Linked DNA regions of Homo sapiens: regions 2 and 3 are each reported to be linked to region 1. Evidence: microRNA targets listed by miRTarBase, many of them from high-throughput screens and not tested one by one. Region 1 holds a microRNA gene; each other region holds the end of a gene's coding sequence.
Evidence for each region. The annotated mature microRNA hsa-miR-7844-5p reads AAAACUAGGACUGUGUGGUGUA and lies in region 1 at 3,520-3,541, opposite strand. An mRNA with a match to its seed (bases 2 to 7 or 8) in the 3' UTR can be bound and repressed. Matches are read on the target gene's strand: a 7mer-m8 pairs with bases 2 to 8, a 7mer-A1 pairs with bases 2 to 7 and ends in A, and an 8mer does both.

Region 1 (7,198 bases):
ATAAATATATTTAAATGTTTTTCCAAACCAATACAACTATATCTGGATTCACTGCAAAAACATTCCCATTCAATGCAAAATAATTTGGTACAATCCGACCAAAAAAGACAAAAGTAATTAGTTGCCTGAGGGAAGCTAGTTCCTCATTATTACTGAGCCCATAATTAAACCTGATATGCTAGAGAAATGGCAAGGCAATAAACACAGAGTGGGGCAATATTTAAATGAAAACAAGAGTGACAGAGCTGGAAAGAGCGAAAACCACATGAATGCTAATTGACAGAGAAGGATAACAGCCTCACCGGCTGAAATGAAAGACGGAGTTTCGGAAGATTTCCTTCTGTGAATAGCTGACAAGGATCACGCAGGCAAAAATGCTACCGTTCCAAGCTACAAACTTGGGACTAATCCCATGTTCATTGTCCAAACCCAGCAACGGAGTACTTTTTTGCTGTTTCATTATGGATTTCCATTTTTTTTTTTTTTTTTTGGCAGTTGGGGGTGGGGTGTTCTGGTTTAATCATATTCAGAGTTTGAGCTTGAAATAACCAACTCAAGACCCACAGGAGACTATGTCACCAGATAAACCCAGTGCTAGAATCCAATGTCCAGCATCTTCAACCACTCAGGAGTGTTTGCTGAGAGACCAGGTGGTGCTTACCCACCCAACAAGCACTTTCCATCTTTGGGTTTGCCCAAGATGTTTACCATAAATGAAAGGGGTGGGGAAAGGATTATAGTTGACACAAACATAAATTAAATATCCAATTCCAGCATATGTTACAGCTACATCACTATTTTTAATTGTAATATTTCTAAAATGTCATTTAATCTCCTTACACATTGAAGAGAACAAACAGTGGGAGTGTTTATTCCTTAAGAGAGAATAAACTGCAGAGATTAAAAGTTTCCTTCGAGTGTATCATCTTATTAAAAAGTACAAAGTTTCATGAACTTTCAACAAGACTGCAAAATAAATATGCCAGGTAGGTTGAGCCTATCCAAGTGAAAACAAGGTTATTTGACATTTAGTGAGAGTCAATGAAAATATGAATTATTTCAAAGGAATTCATGATCCAGGTAGGAGGATTTAGATCCTACGGTATGTTAGAATAAAGCTAGTTTCTAGCAGATTCTGTTAACAGCTCCAGACTAGAGGGGACGGAGTGTGCTGCTTTCCATTCTCTTCTCTACTTCTGTCACTGGGGAGAAGATACACGGATCACAGGTCTGAGAAGTGTGCATTAAAGCACATTTGCTAGGCTGAGCACTGGAATGGTGTGGGCTGGTGTGAAAATGAAGCCTACGTCTTCTTGGACCCTCCCAGAGCCCTTCACCTCAAGGGTTAGACATCTCTCCTTCTCTAAACTAACAGCAGCACTCAATCCCTGGTGTGTCCGAAGTGGTGCTTGGAAAGATTCACAGATACCAAGAGGGGCCCACCCAGGCCCCAGCTTGATTTAGGAGTGTAAGTTACACTCAGCACTCAGCCCACGCTGAGTCTGATGCCCACAGGTAAAGGGTAATGCTGGCCATCGAAATACAAAAGCTAAAGGAAGCACAACATTCTCTCTGCCTCCCTGCCTTGCACCTGGCCTCCTTATCTGTCTCCCAGACTTGAAAGATCAGTGTATACACATCAACGCGGTAGACCAGGGGGAGTCTGACAATGAAAGGAGAGACAGCCATGAGATCAGGGTGGGACTGGTAAGGGAGCTCTTCTCTGAATCCAAAATACTTTATCACCAAAGATTTCATGAAATGACATTTATTGTTTAAAAAAGCGTGAGTCTGGAATTAGATAGTGGTGATGGTTGAACAAGTTTGTGAATTTACTAAAACCACTCAATTGTACGCTTAAAAAAAAAAGCAAGCTTGAGCTGCCTAAGTCCCGCTCACACACACTGGACTTGTACTAAATGCTCAACGATTCCATTCTCTCAGACTATGGAACATTCTGTCACATTTTTTTCCTTCAGGAGATTTCCCTAAGAAGAGCTGTTTGCAAAATATTGCACTTAATTTGAATCCAGGGGGACCTGATGTCTCCTGGAAGAAAACGTACACTCACATGCCTTCCTGCCTGCAGCAGATGGCGGGAGTGGTGGGACAAGGGGCTCAACAGCAGTTTCCATGAACATTGTTTCCATCTTCCTCTTTGTTATACACACAGAGACACAGATTTAAAGGAAAGTATCATCTGGGCTGAAGGCGGTGAATGGTATCCCCCAAACAGGGATGTGAACTTTTGAATGTTTTCAGCTCAGAGGCAGTATGGTCGTCCTAATACCTCAGGACTTATGTTCAGTGAGATGTTAAGAGACAGGTGGCAACCTTGGCTCAAACACTGGACTTAATTTATTTTATTCTTGCTAGTCTTTCACTTCTCAAAGACGATGCTCTCAATCTTCATCCAGGTGAACTGCTCCCACTAATCTAGCCACCATTCAGTCACACCCTACGTCCTCGTTTCCTCATGCTTTCAGCGTTCCGACACCTCAGTGCACTTGAACTTTAGAGGCTATGGTTCGGTTGTCCTTCAAGGAAAAAACTGCAACATGACCATCATTTGTTTTCATTTCCTGAGTAAGCTTTGCAGTCCCTCACAGACCTGTGAATAAGATGAATCACATAAAGTGAATCATATCCTCCAGGGGGGCTTATCACAATCAAGATTTGCCAAAAAACAGCCAGGCATGGTGGCTTGTGCCTGCAGTCCCGGCTGCTTGGGAGGCTGAGGTGGGAGGATCCCTTGAAGCAAGGAGTTTGCAACCAGCCTGAGCAATATTTAGCAGAGCCCTGTCTCAAAAAAGAAAAAAGATTTGCCAAAACACAAACCTTCAGAGTAGTGCTCACAGGATTCCAAATTAATGTTAAAGTCACAGTCTGATGAGGGATTTGAAAACATTCCTGCACACTCTGAAGGCTGGGCATTTGCTAGCCAGTTGAGACAAAATCAGGTGTTGGTTGCCTGGGTATGAGAAGGTGAAAGCCCCATTCATAAATCCCTATGCCTTCCCATTTAAAGTGTAACAAAACCCCTCAGGTAGACTTGTTGGATAACAGGTGTGTGATAAGATTTCCACGTTACAGGGTCATACACGACTGACTGCTGTGGACACTGAGTACATGACGGGACCTATGGTCCCCTGGAGAGAAGCAGGGTGGATCACACGGGGACCATAGGCCACAGTGTTTAACACTGCCCAAGCCTGTGATTCTTCATTCCCTGAATCATGCATATCCTTGCTTTTTATAGGACTCACAGAAAACAACCATTAGCAATTGTGAAGCTCAATTCTGACAGAGACTTAGGAGAGAGACCTCTTTCTTCAGGATCACCAATTATGCCAAGGTCTCAATATACAGAGGTTTACCACGCTGGGCTGGTCAGGTGGGCAGGAAATCGGTCTGATTAAGGCAGTGAGCAAGGTAGGAGAGCTCTGAAACAGATTCGTGTTAACGAAGTACAAGGACTGAGTTGGCAACTGCTACGGAGTTAAGAGAATTGTAGTTATTTACACCACACAGTCCTAGTTTTTCTTACACACGAGTCCGCACAATCATTCACTGTAAAATTTGGTAGTATGCACAGAGTTTTCTTTAAAATAAAAACTTGAAAGAACTTGAAGGCAGGAACCAGTGGCTTCATCTTGGTATTATCATCCTTTCTATGGCACACAGGATATGGTCCCAGTTTTTACAAAATATAGCAAGAAGAGTCACGGCAAAGAAGGTGCCAAGAATGTGGCAGCGACTCTTCATCATGGGTGAGACGAACTTCGCGATGGTGGACACACACACTAAGATGACAGTCATGAAGGCCAGGATCACGTTGATGCACCTCCCCAGGAGAACTTTAGCATTCACGGTGTCTGTCTGCAGAGCTTGCTGCTCTTGCTGGTGGAGCTCCAGCTTAGAAATGCGAGTCTGGCAGGATTCCAAGGCTTCCTGTGAGCAAGAGGGAGAGCAAGGGTCAAACGGTGTTGGGATGGTGAGCAACACGTGAGTGCTCGCTCAGCTGTACACAAAAGCCCCAGCTCAGAAAGCCCAATGCCCAGGCGGCTGCAAATCCCCAAACCGATGATGATGGTGATAGACAAAGATGTGGAACAAGAATCCCAGGCTCATTTTCTCCTGTTGTTCACGAGTAGAAGAGCATGTGGATACAACCACAAAATACCATAAATGAGGAAGTATGGCTAAGTTTTTTGACTTTACCTGTTTTTTTTGAGATGTAGTCTTGCTCTGTCGCCAGGCTGGAGTGCAGTGGTGCGATCTCAGCTCACTGCAACCTCCGCCTCCTGGGTTCAAGCAACTCTCCTGCCTCAGCCCCCCAAGTAGCTGGGACTACAGGTGCGCACCACCATGTCTGGCTAATTTTTGTATTTTTAGTAGAGATGGGGTTTCGCCATATTGGCAAGGAAGGTCTCGATCTCCTGACCTCGTGATCGGCCCACCTCGGCCTCCCAGAATGCTGGGATTATAGGTGTGAGCCACCATGCCCAGCCGACTTCATCTTTTTTTTTTTTTTTTTTTTTTGAGACAGAGTTTCACTCTGTCACCCAGGCTGGAGTGCAGTGGCGTGATCTCGGCTCACTGCAACCTCTGCCTTCTGGGTTTAAGCAATTCTCCTGCCTCAGCCTCCTGAGTAGCTGGGATTACAGGTGCACGCCACCACGCTTGGCTAATTTTTGTATTTTTAGTAGAGACAGGGTTTTACCATGTTGGCCAGGCTGGTCTCAAACTCCTGACCTCAAGTGATCTGCCTGCCATGGCCTCCCACAGTGGTGGAATTACAGGCGTGAGCCACCATGCCCAGCCTGACTTTACCTATTTTTGAAATAAAGTGATATAAAATATTGGTGCCTGTTGGTGCCATCAGGGACAAAGCAGAGAAGGAGGGAGGTTCCACTTTGTGACTACTCCACCTTTCAGCCAAGGAGTGTGTGGGATCTCCAATGGTCAGTCCTTATTTCCACCGCTCAAAGATTTTTGTCCATCAGTTAGAGATTGGCGGAGGAAGGCGAGAGAAGGGAGGGGAAGGGACTGGGGCTGACTGTGGGGCAACTGTGCTTTCACCTGCTCTCTGAACGCGGTGTTACTCAGGACACCATCCGAGGCTATCTCCCTGGATCTCGTCCATGCCAAGTCTTCAATTACTAAGACACAGATGGCTACAAGTGTATCTCTAGGCCAGTTCTTCTTCTGAGATTGACTCACAGATCTCCATGCCTCTTTGACATCTCCATCAGAGCTTCCTGAAAGCACCTCAAATGCAACACGTACAAATGTGGCTTCATGTATTGCAGCTACCCAACACCTGCAGTCAACCCTCTTCCCTTCCAGTGTCCTTCTTCTCAGAGTACAGCACCATGATCCACCCAGTTCCTCATACCAGAAGCCTAACGGGCATACCCTGATACCCTTCTCATCCAACCCGTCGCCCAGCCACGGAGGCAACATCCAGTTTCTAGCTCAATTGGTCCGGTTCTCTCTCCACCCGGTCAGCACCCCAATCTAAGTCACCGGGATCTCCTGCCTGCAATAACCTTACACGAATTTCCCTATACACTCTTTTGTTCCCCACCCTTACGAATCCATTTTCCACACAGCCACCCAAGCGGTCTTTTAAGGATGCATATTTGGTATCACTCCTTTTCATAAAACCTTTACAATCTTTAATATGGCCTTCTGAGGCCTTGCAAGGCCAGGTTCAGCTCCCTCTCCTCCCTCACTTAATGACTTCATGCCAGCCGCTTGCCCTGTCACAGTACTCTGGCCTTTTCTAAGTTCTTTTTTTCTTTTAAGAGACAGGGTCTCACTCTGTTGCCCAGGCTAGGGTGCAATGGCACAGTCAGAGCTCACTTCAACCTCAACCTCTGGTCTCCTGCCTCCATTCCTCCTGAATGACTGGAATTACAAGTGCGAGCCACCACACACAGCTTTATTCTAAGTTCTGAAAAGGAGCACAGACTCACCTCAGGGCTTCTGCATATTCAGTACACTCTGCCTGAGACATGTGCCTCCCCCACTCCATCCCTTCTTCACCCGTGGATCTCCCACTCATTTTTTAGGTCTCGCCTTGATTGCCACATCCCTGGGGAAGCCTTTCCTGATCCATGAGATGAGATCAAGTCTCCCTTCAGCTCTCCTCCCCAACCACAAGACATACGCTGCCTGAGGACAGGAACTAGCCCATCTTGCATTTGCTGTCCTCTCCAGCACAGAGCCAGCGCCAGGCATGCAGCACGTGCCACACACTGGCTGAATATGAAAGAGACAGCTAGGTGCCAGTAAGAGAATGTGAGGCTTGATGGGTACAGTGGCGCATGCCTGTAATCCCAGCATTCTGGGAGGCCGAGGCGGGTGGATCACTTGAGATCAGGAGTTCAAGACCAGCCTGGCCAATATGGTGAAACCCCCTCTTTACTAAAAAAAAAATACAAAAATTAGCTGGGCATGGTGGCATGCACCTGTAATACCAGCTACTCAGGAGGTTGAGGCAGGAGAATCACTTGAACCCAGGAGGCGGAGGTTGCAGTGAGCCGAGATCACGCCACTACACTCCAGCCCAGGCAACACAGTAAGACGGTCTCAAAAAACAAAAAAAAAAAACAGAATGTGAGGCTTGAGAGAGAAACCTTCAGGCCTGCTGGGTGAAAAGGATCTAACTAGAGGTAGTACAATGTGCCCCTCTCTGTTCTAACTCATTTGCCCATCTGTGTTTGCTCAATTAAAATATAGTCACCTTTTCAGGTTTTAAACAAGAATAATGGCTCCAAGATTGATTTGCTTTTCTTCTGCTGAATAACTCTATGGGCCAAAGAACAGGTTCTCTGTTACTATAGTAACTTCTATTATACTAGGCTACCAACGAAAAGGATAAAACTTCTTCAGATCTTACATTCTAGAAAGTGCTGGCTTTCAGCAATAACAGGCATGTACTAGAAATCATGTGTTCTTTTCAACTACTTGGGTCCAAGGTTTCCTCTATTTTAGGCATAACACAGAAAAGGTGATGGAACAAGACAAAAGACCAACCTTTTAGGAAAATCCATGAATCTTTGATTATAAAATGAATTACGTGTACAAATAGACCGATCTTAGAATTGTCTTACAACTGCTGTCAATTTTTTTTAACCAAAAGAAAAATCCAAGAAAATTAAGGGTGAATTCCAAGGAATTTGAGTCACAG
Region 2 (7,198 bases), not on the chromosome of region 1:
CCTGATACAGTTCAATTTTTTAAGACAGGGTCTTGCTCTGTCACCCAGGCTGGAATGCAGTGGTGTGATCACGGCTCACTGCAGCCTCGACTTCCCAGGCTCCAGTGATCCTCTCACCTCAGCCTCCTGAGTAGCTGGGACTACAGGCATGCACCACCACACCCAGCTAATTTTTGTATTTTTTTGTAGAGACGGGGTTTTGCCATGTTATCCAGGGTGGTCTTGAACTCCTGAGCTCAAGCCATCCTCCCACCTTGGCCTCCCAAAGTGCTGGGATTACAGGCATGAGCCACCGCGCCCGGCCCCAATTCCTTTCATTTTTTTTTTTTTTTTTTTTTTTTTTTTTTTTTTTTTTTTTTTTTGAGACGGAGTCTCGTTCTGTCGCCCAGGCGGGAGTGCAGTGGCGCGATCTCCGCTCACTGCAAGCTCCGCCTCCCGGGTTCACGCCATTCTCCTGCCTCAGCCTCCCGAGTAGCTGGGACTACAGGCGCCCGCCACTGCGCCCGGCTAATTTTTTTGTATTTTTAGTAGAGACGGGGTTTCACCGTGGTCTCGATCTCCTGACCTCATGATCCGCCCGCCTCGGCCTCCCAAAGTGCTGGGATTACAGGCGTGAGCCACTGCGCCCGGCCGTCCTTTCATTTTTGAGATTGGGGAGCACAAGCTGGCCCAGTGTCACACCACGGCAGCTGATCCAGGACTCAGATCATCTGCTTCCCAGGCACTGCTCCTTTCCAGTGCCCACCCTGTGCCTGCTGATAACTACTGGCATGTAGACTGACTGCTAAAGTCAATTTGTGTTAGGAAGCCACTTCTGGCTGTCCCTCTCCGTCCCTTACTGGGCAAAAAAATTTCCTACTCGATCTACTTAGTAAGTGACATTGCCAAGATCTGAAGACAGATCCGGCTGCCTACCCCATTCCCAGCTACCCAAAGTGCCTTTAACTGGGCACTTAAGGTGCTATTTTAGCCCTAACTTCCCTTGGCTTACTCTGTCATCCTTACGGCATCCTATAGCCAAAAAAGAGCTGATGAGCTGTTCAGCGAGCCTTACCCTCAAACAGGCCACACAAGAGTCTCCCTCCCTCCCTGCCTGTGCTCATGATGCTCGCTCTGCATCTTGCCCCAGTATCTCTTGTAGAACTCTTTCCTGTAACTTTCCAAGCAGGGGTAACAAACTCAAATGCCCTCAGGAAGCAGACGGGTAGAAGAAAGCTTCTACTTCACTAAGCTGGGTTGGGTCCCGCATACCACCCCTGAACCGCCTAGACCCTTGATCAATCTCTCTCTCTGCATCTGTTTATGAGGCCCCGGCGACCACAAGACCAGATAGCCACCCCGAGTGCTGGGTGACCCGCCGCTTCCTCCTTCCGTCCCCGCCTCAGGCGCTTACCTTGGCCACCTCCCAGGCGTCCACGGGCCAGCGGCCCGGCCGGCAGTTTCCCCAGTGCACATCTCCATTTCTGTTGACATGATGTCTCAAAATCTCCCTTTTCCATTCAGCGCACACCTGACACTGAGGCTGAAACTACAGGGGGCGGCGGTGAGGAGGGGCCCAGGAGGGAGGGACGTCGCGGTGGGCCCCGCATCGCGGAGGGAACAGGACACTTGCGCTCTGGGTCTGGGACAGGAACGGGGATGAGGAGGGGTGGGGTGGGGGCGGTGGTCAAGGCCCCGAGCCAGGTGCTCACCTGGCGGGCGCGAGGGCTGCACCGTGAGCCGCCGCGGCAGACGGCGCGGGGCCCCAGGCCGGGGGCTGCGGCGAGTAGGCCGCGGTGGAAGGAGAGCACCTCGCGGCCGACGAAACCCTGCAGGCAGCTGCGCAGCAGTAACAGGCAGTGGCCCGCCTTCACCCAGTTCTTGTACTCGGCGCAGTTGAGGCGCGCCGCTAGCTCCGACAGCACCATGTCTCCCACTTGGAACCAGGAGGTTGCGGGGCGTGGCGGACGGCAGTGCGCAGGCGCGGAGCCTGGGAAGTACCCGAGGCAGCGGCGCCTGCGCCGGCGGCAGCGACGCCTGCGCCTGCGCGGCGCGGTGCCACCGATCCCGGGGCGGGGCATCTTGACTTCCGGGGCACGTCGGCTCCACCCCACTTGGGTGACGTCTGACGTCTGACGTCTAACAACTTTGGTGCTTGGGGAAGCAGTTAACTATTTGAAACCCTTAGGCCCTCTTCGTCCCCCAAACAGAGACCCTGTCAGCATCCGATTCGACTCCCTCTCCTAATGTAGGGCACTTCTGTTTTAACTTTTTTTTATTGTCCAGATGTACAAGGTGCTCAGGGCACATTGCTTGAATCGTGTATGTTCTTTGCATTATACAATTCTAGAGTTACTGGTTCCTAAGCCCACAGACCAGCTGTAGCAAATTGAGGTATTAGTGAAACGTGACCGCTGGCTGCCTGCGGTGTGCCAAGCTAACCCAAAACTCAAAATCCCCCGCCACTGGACCACCCAGAAGGGGGCGTTTGCCTGTTTAGGGCAACACATCACTTGGATTCTAGAAGGCTGCACACCTGAGCCAGATAAGGGCATCCTGAAGCACCTAGCAAAGGTTAGACGATAATTATCTAGTATTCTTGATTATATGATAATTAGTGCTCCTTGCACATGGAAGTCTGATTTAAGTTCCAAAGAAGTGCCACAAAGGTCAGAAGGCACTGGGATTGTCAACTCCAAGTGACAAGTCAGGTCAGTTTTAGTTGTTTTTAATGAGCTTTCTGAGCTTGGAAAACATGTCAAAATTGTGTGTAGTTAAAAGCCTCTGAGGAAAGAGTCTAAACATTAAACCTTCCCGACTGTGGTTCACAGCAAAAATGTCCAGTGTTTAGGAGCACTAGCTCAGACTCAAACTGCCCCTTCTTAGCAGTTTGATCTTAAGCAACCTTAATTTGATCTCAGGCAAATTACATTTCTCTGGGCCTCCATTTACTCATTTTTAAGAAGAGGATATCAATAACCTACCACATTGGGTTGTTGTGAGGATTAAATACACATTGAAATATTAAGAAAATGCCTAGCACACAGTAAGCTCTCAGTAAATACTTGCTATTATTTTATATTGACCTAAATATGCCCTTTCATCAATCAGTTATATTCTTGGGCAAGGTATTTTAACAAATCACTGGCCACTTGGAAGTGGAGGCAACTTGCAGAAAATTGTGAGCATACCATGGAGTTCCTGGAGTTGTGCAGCACAGTGCTGGCTGGCCTCTGCTAACTTTGTCTTAATAACCTCAATGCTAAATCCATCCTAAGTAAATTTAAATCACATCCTTAGACACACTGTCCATTCTCAAACCGAATGAAAAAAAAATTCCACAAGAAACAATGAAATACACATTAACATTTTCCCTCTATGTCCCTTGAATGTAAGTTCTCTTAAAATTTTCTGTATACTGATTTTATATCAAGAACACTTGGATGATAAATAAACATTAAGGTAAAATGTAATAGGCACTTCTTTTGGGGGGAAAAACTATGAAAGGAACAACTTTTTATATTGAAATTGCATCAGAATCCAGGGTAGCAAAGTTATAACTTCTTGAAGTTATCAAATTAACCACAGTCCAAAGAATGGCTGTTAGTATCCTTTGGCTGAACAGATTACTGTGTTAATTAGAACACAGTTATTAGTGGTTCTTAAATTCAAAGTCATATAAATTTTAGTTTATGCTTGCACTTAACTCACTCAGTTAATTTTCAAACATAAGGTTCGACTCCTGTTATTAGCGACTTGACACGTTCTGCTGAAGCTCTCACTTTTCTTCTAATTCTGAAAGTACTTTTATACATTCTGAAATGGCATTTCAGCAGATGGAAAAATGAAGGTGGCAAATCAGGACCAATTTCTTATTTCAAGGTTAAATTAATACTAAACCAGACTATTAATGAAAACATCTTCATCAAAATTAACTAGAGAGTTGGTAGTTCTCTGAAACTTTGTATAAATTTTATTTATTACTGTAAATACTAAAATCACATTGAAAACACCTTAAAGTTAAGTCCCAACCCGATTATTAGAGAAAATCACTTGGGCATCCAGTCCCCTTGATCGAACCTGGGTAACAAAAGAGGCAAAAGACATGATTTGTGATGAAACTTACTATTCAAATGCTAAATGTTTTCAAGCTTTAATAAGGTATATATCAATTCCAAGTACCAAGCATAATATAAAAATTCAAATTCATGGGTTTACTCTTAATAAGCATCAAAAGCAAATTTTGCGCACTGAATCCTATCTTACTCTTGATTGGCACAATGCATTCAGAGATGAGTTATAATTAGGAAAAAAGAGTGTCCACTGAATGCATCATGTGTAAAAATGCAATTAACATTTCAAAACCACATTAAAAGGGAAAATACCTAAAAAGTTAACTCTTAATAAAATTATTTGAAACAATATTATCCTGCAGATAAAAATACATTTCTTGTATATACATGTAGATTTCTACATGAAAGAAAAGATTCAGCTCCAAATAGAAAAGGGCTGACCCTTGATAAAGACATCTTAGATTGCCAAACTGATGTGATTACCACTGTAAGAACTAAAAACAGAAGGATAAAAAGATTAAGTTAAAGGAAGGATAAAAGTTTAGTCAACTGCTCCTGAACAGTGGCAGAGTTGGGTGAGAAGTGGGAGATGAAGGCAGAAATAAGACAAAGAAGAAAGGCAAAGAAGGCTTCAACTCTGATTGAAAATGAGTGGAGAATCAAACAAAGTTGAGAACAGATATGATATAGGTACAGTGAGATACTTGAAACTAGAATTTGATAGTTGATAGTTATAGAAGCTCAATTAAATCATCTTGAAGTGGAATTAGACAAAGCATCTACATTTTAATGGAGAACCAGTATTACAGTGACCAGGTAACTCGGCATGGTATTATCACTTAAAAATTTTTCCTAAATACCATGAAGTCGGTAGAAGACCTTTGCATCAGACCATGTTCTTTGAAGCTTAAAAAAGTCCCTGACTGACTAGGAAAGACAGCACAGTGCTCCAAAAAGAAACCCTGCAGAGATGTATTAATACCAAAAACTCCATTTGACCCTGGACAGGCCCAGGATTCGGGATTCTTCACAATGAGGGGAATGGACCAGGTTTCTTCCAAGCAAAACATTCTATCGTTTTGTTGACAATGAATTAAATTGAAATTGTTTAGAACAATCCCAATTTTGGTGGGGAAGGAAAGGAGGATAAGTTAAGCAAGATAAAGAAAGCTCACAGAAACTTCATGCAGAGGTACAGCATTAAAGTTCTTTGTTTCCTAATTAATGTTGTATGCAGAAGTATTCTGTAAACTAAATTTTCCTGACAGAAAAGTTCCCACATCCTCAACAGATGAGAATGATTGCATTATTTGGGATCCTTGATCAATACGAACCACATACTGTCCCTTCTCAAAGACTAAGTTCCTTATTTTTCACCCAAATCCTATATATTGAAAGACAACCAAGGTGCTAAATGTTAACCACTAGTCAAGTTAGGAATGTCTGAAGAAAATATATTAACCTTGACATAAAGAAGATGTTTTTGGTCAAATTTCAGACATGTATTATTATAAATTAATAACTGGCTCCATCCACCAGGTTAAAGATGAAGGGAGGGCCTAAGATGTCTCTAGAGTTTATATACACACAAGTGAGTGTCACTGTTTTGTTTTGTTTTTGACCTAGTTTTATTAAATATTGCTTCCTTGGGGTGTGTTTATAACAACTCCCAGAACATTTCATGTAAGGATTCAAAGCGGTCATATTAAAATACAGCTTCAATATAAAGTTTATCACAGTTTTACAGTATTCAAAAATGACAGACCTGCCTTAAAAAACAAAACAAAAACCAAAAAAGGACTATTACACCCAAAACATAAGAAAACAATTAAATAAACAAGTTTGGCATTTTCATAACTTTATAGTATAAAACAGAATATTAAATTTATTACTGGCAAACGGACACTGATTTATTTCCTTTGAAATGTGTCCCATTTAAACACACTATACAAGTTCATTATACAAAAGATGGATGATCATTTTGATGAAAGAAGTGCACCCTGAAAATTTTTGCCAGTTTAGAATATTTAGCTCTTAAAGTTTAAAAAAAAAGTCCTTTTCCTTTTTTAAACTGAAGGCTGAATTCAGATTTTTTTTGTTGTCTCATCTGTCAGCCTTCCTGGTTTAAAAACAATAGTGTCTATGGACGCCCACCAGGGGGCAGTGTAAGATTAGCCATTAAATCACGAACAGCTGCAAATATTGTGCATTCACCTGCAACAGAGAAAAATGGTCATTAGCTATTCACAACACAGGAAAGATGTTAACACACCGGTAAGGGAAGGGGTAATTAAATCTAAAATTAGTGAGAACTTTAAAGATCAAAATAAAAGACAATTTTAACTGCCCAGATTATTGGGGATTAAGCTGTGGTGTTAAGTATCAGATTATATTTGGTTTGGATTTTTTTTCTCAGGAGGAAACTTCAAGCAAGTCCCAGTTAGGTTTGTATTTAGGAAGATATGTCTAGAGTTTCTGTTTAGAAACACTGTAGCATTAGATAAGCCTTTGAAGTTGGGCTTTAAGGCTACTGAGTGCTTATAAGGGCATTTTGGATATCATAAAAACATCTAGTTTATATTTATGCATTAGTTACAACTTTGGTGGTATCTTTCAAACGTTGCATTAAAGGCCAGATAAAAATGTTTAGGACAGCGCTGTCCAATAGAACTTTTTGTGATGATGGAAATGTTGTATAAGTGTGCCATGGCTATTAAGCACTTGTAATATAGCTAGTGTGACTGAGGAACTGAATTTAAAGTTTTATTTAATTTTCATTAACTTAAATTTAAATAGCCACATGCTGGCTAGTGGCAGTTATACTGGACAGTGCATGTCTCTGACATCTATTGGAGTTTTCTCCCAAAATTCAAGGAAATGGTCAACTTCCAGAGTTCAACATTAAAATCAATTAAATACAAAAATGATTTTCTTAAAAGCACTTCATCAGAAGAGAAGTGATGGGTGTGGGAGGTGGGGTGGGAGACTGAAGTATGGTACACCAACAATCCAAAAACAGGATTTGTGGGTGGGGAGGGTGCTGGCGATTCATCCTGTCAACTTCTCCTTTGCTCAAAGAAACCAAATACTCTGCTTCTTGTAATTATTACAAGTATTTAAATATTATAAACCAAAAGCTGGATCCC
Region 3 (7,198 bases), not on the chromosome of region 1:
TTGAGTGTGGGAAGGCCTTCAACCGCCGGTCATACCTCACGTGGCACCAACAGATTCACACTGGAGTGAAACCCTTTGAATGCAACGAGTGTGGAAAAGCTTTTTGCGAGAGTGCAGACCTCATTCAACACTACATTATCCACACTGGGGAGAAGCCCTATAAGTGCATGGAGTGTGGGAAGGCGTTCAACCGTAGGTCACACCTCAAGCAGCATCAACGGATTCACACTGGGGAGAAGCCTTATGAATGCAGTGAATGTGGAAAGGCCTTCACCCACTGCTCCACTTTTGTCTTGCATAAAAGGACCCACACAGGAGAAAAACCCTATGAATGCAAAGAATGTGGAAAAGCCTTTAGTGATAGGGCAGACCTCATTCGCCACTTCAGCATCCACACTGGAGAGAAACCCTATGAGTGCGTGGAGTGTGGAAAGGCCTTCAACCGCAGCTCACACCTCACGAGGCACCAACAGATTCACACTGGAGAGAAACCCTATGAATGCATCCAGTGTGGGAAAGCCTTTTGCCGGAGCGCAAACCTTATTCGACACTCCATCATTCACACTGGAGAGAAGCCGTATGAATGCAGTGAGTGTGGAAAGGCTTTTAATCGCGGCTCATCCCTCACACATCATCAAAGGATTCATACTGGGAGAAACCCTACCATTGTAACAGATGTGGGAAGACCTTTTATGACTGCACAGACTTCAGTCAACATCCAGGAACTTTTATTAGGGAAAGAGTTTTTGAATATCACCACTGAAGAAAATCTGTGGTGAAAGGGAACATCTTACCATCTGGCCATTCACACTGAAGAGAAACTTCATAAGCATCCTCTCTTTGAGAAAACGTGTAATAGATGATCATTTGTCGTCTAAACAATCAAGTTAGAAATTGAACCAGCCTGGAGTCTTATTCTCCACCTGAGAATTCACCCATGAGAGAGACCCAGTGGTTGCTATGCACTTAGGAAAACTTTCAGCCACATCTTTCTTCTTAGTTTACAGTGAAATATTATCTCAGGGATATTTTTTTTTTTTTTTTGAGACGGAGTCTCGCTCTGTCGCCCAGGCTGGAGTGCAGTGGCGGGATCTCGGCTCACTGCAAGCTCCGCCTCCCGGGTTCACGCCATTCTCCTGCCTCAGCCTCCCAAGTAGCTGGGACTACAGGCACCCGCCACTACGCCTGGCTAATTTTTTGTATTTTTAGTAGAGACGGGGTTTCACCGTTTTAGCCGGGATGGTCTCGATCTCCTGACCTCGTGATCCGCCCGCCTCAGCCTCCCAAAGTGCTGGGATTACAGGCGTGAGCCACCGCGCCCGGCCATCTCAGGGATATTTAAACAAAGGAAGAGGAAATATAGGGAAGAGAAAGAAACCACAGCTTCTTTTAGACTTGTCTGACAAGCCTATGGCAATTTTGTCGTCCCTTTGTTATTTTATGTGGGAGAGGGAAATGTTTCAGAAACGAAAGATCTCATCCCCTTTATTTTTCTGTGTATGCATTCACTGCTGCCCAGTGTCAGAACAGTTATACAAACGAGGGCTTGAAAACATTTTGTGAAAACTTGCTTAGTCCTGCAACGTTCTCCACTCTCGAGGTGCAGAAGCATACATCTTTATAAAAAATATGGAGGCTTGAGTTATGAAACACTTTTATAAGGAGATAAGGATGTACATATGTTTGGACACATTGTCCACTTCAGATGCTTGTTTAAAAAAATGTTTCACCATGTGTCTTTACCCAATACACATACTTTTTCTTGATGTGGATTTACTTTTTTTTTTTTTTTTTAAGTTTTCCTGGGATAGGGATGATAGTGTAATTGTTCATGCCCACAGTAATCCTGGGAATCTTAGTTTTTTCCTATGATTGTGGTTTCTCAGCTTCTTTACCTCTCCTTTGAGTTAGGTCCACCTCAGTTTTCTAAAGGTCAAATTAAGGCCCCCCCAAAAATACAGTATGTAGCTGAATTCCTTTGAAAGATCATGATAAACTCAGAAGAACAAACATAGAAGGAATGTCATTTTTAATCTTTTTAAAGAGTGTGTGAAAATTCACTTTAACTGGAATTTTAACAGGCAAGCCGGCATGCATATATGTAGGGATGTGTGACTTTCACAGTTGTCACCATGGACTTAGGCTTGATTAAAATGCTACACATTTAGAGCGTTTTGTAATTCCTTTTTTATATTTTTAAGACTAGATTTTGAGCCATGTGATAGTTTTACCTCATATTAAATATATTGTACAGAAGTAAAAATAATCATGTATTCACTTTGAACTCCTCAAAGCCTTTTTTATTTATTTACTTATTTACTTACTTGGTTTAGGAGCAGAGGTTTAATAGGCAAAAGAAAGAGAAAAGAGACTAGCTCTCTTCTGAGAAGAGAGGGGTGTCCAAGTGGGACTTCCCTCCTCAGAGCCTTTTTTTTTTTTTTTTTTTTGGAGACAGAGTTTTGCTCTTGTTGCTCAGGCTGGAGTTCAGTGGCACAGTCTTGGCTCACTGCAACCTCTGCCTCCCGAGTTCAAGCGATTCTTCTTCAGCCTCCCAAGTAGCTGGGATTACAGGCATGCGCCACCACGCCCAGCTAATTTTGTATTTTTAATAGAGATGGGGTTTCTGCATGTTGGTCAGGCTGATCTCGAACTCCTGACAGGTGATCCACCTGCCTCGGCCTCCCAAAGTGCTGGGATTACAGGTGTGAGCCACTGCGCCCAGCGCTCACAGCCTTTTAGTGAACACTTGTATAGTTTTCTATTGTAGGCAAAGCCATTTTGTACTGCATTAATTCATGTCATTATTTTGAAGACATCTCTTGGTCCTTTTTTTTTTTTAATTGAGATGGAGTCTCGCTCTGTTGCCCAGGCTGGAGTGCAGTGGTGAGATCTCGGCTCACTGCAGCCGCCTCCACCTTCCGGGTTCAAGTGATTTTCCTGCCTCAGCCTCCCAAGTAGCTGGGACTACAGGTTTGTGCCACCACACCCAGCTAATTTTTGTATTTTTAGTAGAGATGGGGTTTCACCATGTTGGCCAGGATGGTCTTCATCTCTTAACCTTGTGATCTGCCTGGCTCAACCTTCCAAAGTGTTGGGATTACAGGCGTGGCCACTACGCCTGGCCCTCCTTGTCCTTTTTATGTCATGTCTAAGAACTCCTCACCAGGTTTTCTATCGTATTTCCTCCTACAAATTTTATCTTCTACATTGGATCTGATTCATGTTAAGTTAATTTTTGTATTACAGTATGAACTTTAGTTTCTTTTGTTGTTGCCCATGAATTTTTTTAAGCTCCATTTCTTGAAAAGACTATTCTGCCTCTATTGAATTGCTTTTACACCTTAGCAAAAAATTATTTAAGTATATTCATGTTGGTCTATTTCTTGGTTCTCTATGTTATTCCATTGGTCTTCGAGCCTAAACCTATGCCAATACCACTCTATTTTGATTACTATTGCTATCTACTAAATTTTAAAATAGGGTAAACTTATTCCTCACTCTTTATTCTTTTTAAAAATTGATTTGGGGCCAGGCATGGTGGCTCACGCCTGTAATCCCAACACTTTCGGAGGCCAAGGTGGGCAGATTACATGAGGTCAGGAGTTCAAGACCTGCCTGGCCAATATGATGAAAACTCGTCTCTATTTAAAAAATACAAAACCTAGCCAGGCAAGGTTGCAGGCGCCTGTAGTCCCAGCTACTCGGGAGGCTGAGGCAGAAGAATTGTTTGAACCCGGGAGGTGGAAGTTGCAGTGAGCTGAGATGGTGCCACTACACTCCAGCCTGGGTGACAGAGTGAGACCCTGTCTCAAAAAATAAATAAAAAATAAAAATTGATTTGGCTTTCATATCAATTGTTTCCTTTGGCTTTGTATATACATTTTATTGCATGTTTGTCTCTATGAAATATGTTGCTGGGATTTTGATATAAATTGCCTTAAATCTAAAGATCGTTTTGGTGGGAATTGACATCTTGTTGAGTCTTGCAGTTCATGAATATGGTACGTCCCTCTGTTTATTGAGGTCCTCGTTGATTTATTTCATAAGGGTTTTGTAATTTTCAGCTTATAGATTATGGACATATTTTAAAAATCTAGACAGTTTCTTAGAGGGCCATTATATGTTGTATTGAGTTTTAAATTTCAGTTTGCACTTGATACTTGCAATTATAGAGAAATATATAAATTAGAATTTTTATATGTATTCTGTGACTTTGCTGAAGTCAGTAGTTCCAGCAACATTTTTTAATAGCTTTCTTAGGATTTTCTTCATAAATATTAATGTTATTAGCAAACATCAAACATCTTACTTCTACTTTTTTTTTTTTTTTTTGACACTCTTGTTCTGTCACCTAAGCTGGAGTACAGTGGTGCGATCTTGGCTCACTGCAACCTCTGCCTCTCGGGTTCAAGGAATTTTTACCCTCAGCCTCTCGAGTAGCTGGGATTACTAGCACACTCCACTATGCCCAGCTAATATTTGTGTATTTTGTAGAGATGAGGTTTCACCATGTTGCCAGACGGGTCTCAAACTCCTGAGCTCAAGTGAGCCTCCTGCCTCAGCCTCCCAAAGTGCTGGAATTATAGGCATGAGCCACTGCTCCTGGCCCAAACATCTTATTTCACCTACCCAATCTATATTACTTTTATTTCCTTTTCTTGTGTTTATTGCACTAGCTAGAACTTCCAGTGTGATGTTGAATAGAAATGGTGAAAGAGGACATACTTGCCTTTTTCTTGATGTTTGGGAGAAAGCATTCAGTGTAGATCGTTAAATATAATACCTGTAGACTTTTATGTACATGTTCTTTAGAAAGTTTCCCTTCTGAGTTGCTGAGGGCTTTTATTGTGAATGGGCATGTAATTTGCCAAATGCTTTTCCCCCTTCAATTGATATGATCATGTAATTTTTCTTCTTTAGCCTGTTATGATGGATGGCTTTAACTGATTTTAGAATGTTTTGTTGTTTTTTTGAGACCAAGTCTCACTCTTTCGCCAAGGCTGGAGTGCAGCAGTGGAGCAATCTCAGCTCACTGCAACCTCCGCCTCCCAGGTTCAAGCAATTCTCTTGCCTCAGCCTCCCAAGTAGCTGGGACTACAGGCGTGCACCACCATGCCCAGCTAATTTTTGTATTTTTAGTAGAGATGGGGTTTCACCATGTTGGCCAGGCTAGTCTCGAACTCCCAACCTCAAGGGATCCGCCCACCTCGGCCTCCCAAAGTACTGGAATTACAGGCATGAGCTACCATGCCTGGCCGCTTTTTGAATGTAGGCCAGCCTTGCACTCCTGGGATAAACCCCACCAGGTCATGGAATATGATTTTTTTTTTTTTTTTGAGACGAAGTCTCTGTCACCCAGGCTGGAGTACAGTGGCACGATCTCGGCTCACTGCAACCTCCACTTCCCAGGTTCAAGCGATTCTTCTGCTTCAGCCTCCCGAATAGCTTGGACTACTGTCATGTGCCACCATGCCTGGCTAATTGGAATATGATTTCTTTTAATTACAACATTCCATTTGCTAGTATTTTATTGAGAAATTTTGTATCTGAAATCATGAGTATTCCATCTGGCCAAATATGTGGCTGGAATTTCATCAAAAGTGGCAGAGGGGTTCCCAGAAGGGACTGTTTCAAAAAGTCCTGAGATAGGACCTGTTGGGATTCCAAAGAAAGGAGCATAAAACACCAGGGTAATCAGTTCAAATCATTGTTCGGAGGAACTTTCATACAGGGTTGTGGGGGCTGCAGTGTGTCCTTGTGTTGGACAGCAAACAAAAAAAAAAGCTCTACTTGTGTACGTCTGCAATGAGAAGTTTGGGTTATGGAGAGTATATGAGGGCTTAAGGAATTTGGCTCAGATCCAGGGCCAGTTTCTACATGTTTAGCAACATGTTTGATCTCTCAGTGTTTCGGGCAACAATGTAACTGTCAGTGCCTGGGCATTCCAATCCCTAGCTTACGTTTAAGCCTGCAGGGGAAGACATGCACTTGGTCCAGGGTCACAGAGCTGTCAAGGCACCTTGCACTTCTAGGCCAGGACACAGAAAGGGGAGTTGGGGACCACTACAATGAGCAATGTTGGTCAGTAGTTTTATTTGTTTGTTTTCACTTTATCTGATTTTGGTGTTTGACTAATACTGGCCTCCCAAAATCAACTGGGAATTTTTCCTCCAGTGCCACCCCCTTTTTATTTGCATGACATTTTGTAGAATTGGTGTTGTTTCTTTAAGTATTCGGTAGAATTTTTTGGTGAAACCATTTAAGTCTGGAGGTTTCTCTTGTGGAAGGTTTGAATTACGTAGTCATTCAACTTAATAGGTACTCAAACTATTTCATATTGGGTGGGTTTTGATAGATTATTATTTTTGAGGAATTGTTCCATTTCATCTAAGTTTTGTAACTTAAATTTGTGGAGTTATTTATTTGAAGTATTCCCTTATTATTCCCTTCATGACAGAAGGTTCTATAGTTGTATCCTTTGTTTTATTCCTAATAGTGGTTATGTGTGTCTTCTTTATCTTTGTTAATCTTCTTAGATGTTTATAAATTTTATTGACTATTTCAAAGAACCAGCTTTCTGTGTCATTGATTTTCTATGTGTTCTGACTTTGATTTCTATTCTGATCATTATTATTTTCTTTTTCTACTTGTTTTGGTTGTATATTGCTGTTTGTAGATTCTTGAGGTGGGAGCTTAGATTATCATTAGAGACTTTATTCTAACATAAGCATTTAGTTTTATAAGCTAAACTCAGCACTGTTTGAGCTCCATCTTACATTTTCCTATATTGTAATTATATTTTCATTCAGCTTAACTATTTCTCGATTCCATTTAAGAAATTATCTGTGACACATGGGTTATTTAGAAGTGTGCTCTTTTGGCCGAGCACGGTGGCTCACGCCTGTAACCCCAGCACTTTGGGAGGCTGAGGCGGGCAGATCATGAGGTCAAGAGATGGAGACCATCCTGGCCAACATGGTGAAACCCCATCTCTACTAAAAATACAAAAATTAGCTGGCGTGGTGGCGGGCTCCTGTAATCCCAGGTACTCGGAAGGCTGAGGCAGAAGAATCGCTTGAACTCGGGAGGCGGAGGGTGCAGTGAGCTGAGATCGCACCACTGCACTCCAGCCTGGCGGCAGGGCAAGACTCTGTCTCAAAAAAAAAAAGAAAAAGAAAAGTGTGCTCTTTCATTTCCA

Region 2: the mRNA of MED14 is a reported target of hsa-miR-7844-5p. Seed matches in the 3' UTR shown: 7mer-A1 at 5,300-5,306 and 7mer-m8 at 4,760-4,766.
Region 3: the mRNA of ZNF543 is a reported target of hsa-miR-7844-5p. Seed matches in the 3' UTR shown: 7mer-A1 at 998-1,004.

Annotation. Positions count from the first base shown.
Region 1 is chr12:94,567,787-94,574,984 of GRCh38, forward strand. MIR7844 (microRNA 7844) reads right to left here and starts at 3,566; the gene lies at 3,445-3,566. TMCC3 (transmembrane and coiled-coil domain family 3) reads right to left here. Exons shown (of 4, transcript NM_020698.4): 4 at 1-3,951. The coding sequence ends at 3,649.
Region 2 is chrX:40,645,614-40,652,811 of GRCh38, forward strand. MED14 (mediator complex subunit 14) reads right to left here. Exons shown (of 31, transcript NM_004229.4): 31 at 2,692-6,266. The coding sequence ends at 6,193. CXorf38 (chromosome X open reading frame 38) reads right to left here and starts at 1,948. Exons shown (of 7, transcript NM_144970.3): 1 at 1,692-1,948; 2 at 1,394-1,528. The coding sequence starts at 1,907. RefSeq lists an enhancer at 1,129-1,328 and silencers at 1,579-1,728, 1,849-2,148, 1,984-2,164.
Region 3 is chr19:57,328,487-57,335,684 of GRCh38, forward strand. ZNF543 (zinc finger protein 543) reads left to right here. Exons shown (of 4, transcript NM_213598.4): 4 at 1-2,284. The coding sequence ends at 779. Among named protein-coding and RNA genes, the nearest start is that of ZNF543, 12 kb to the left of the region's middle.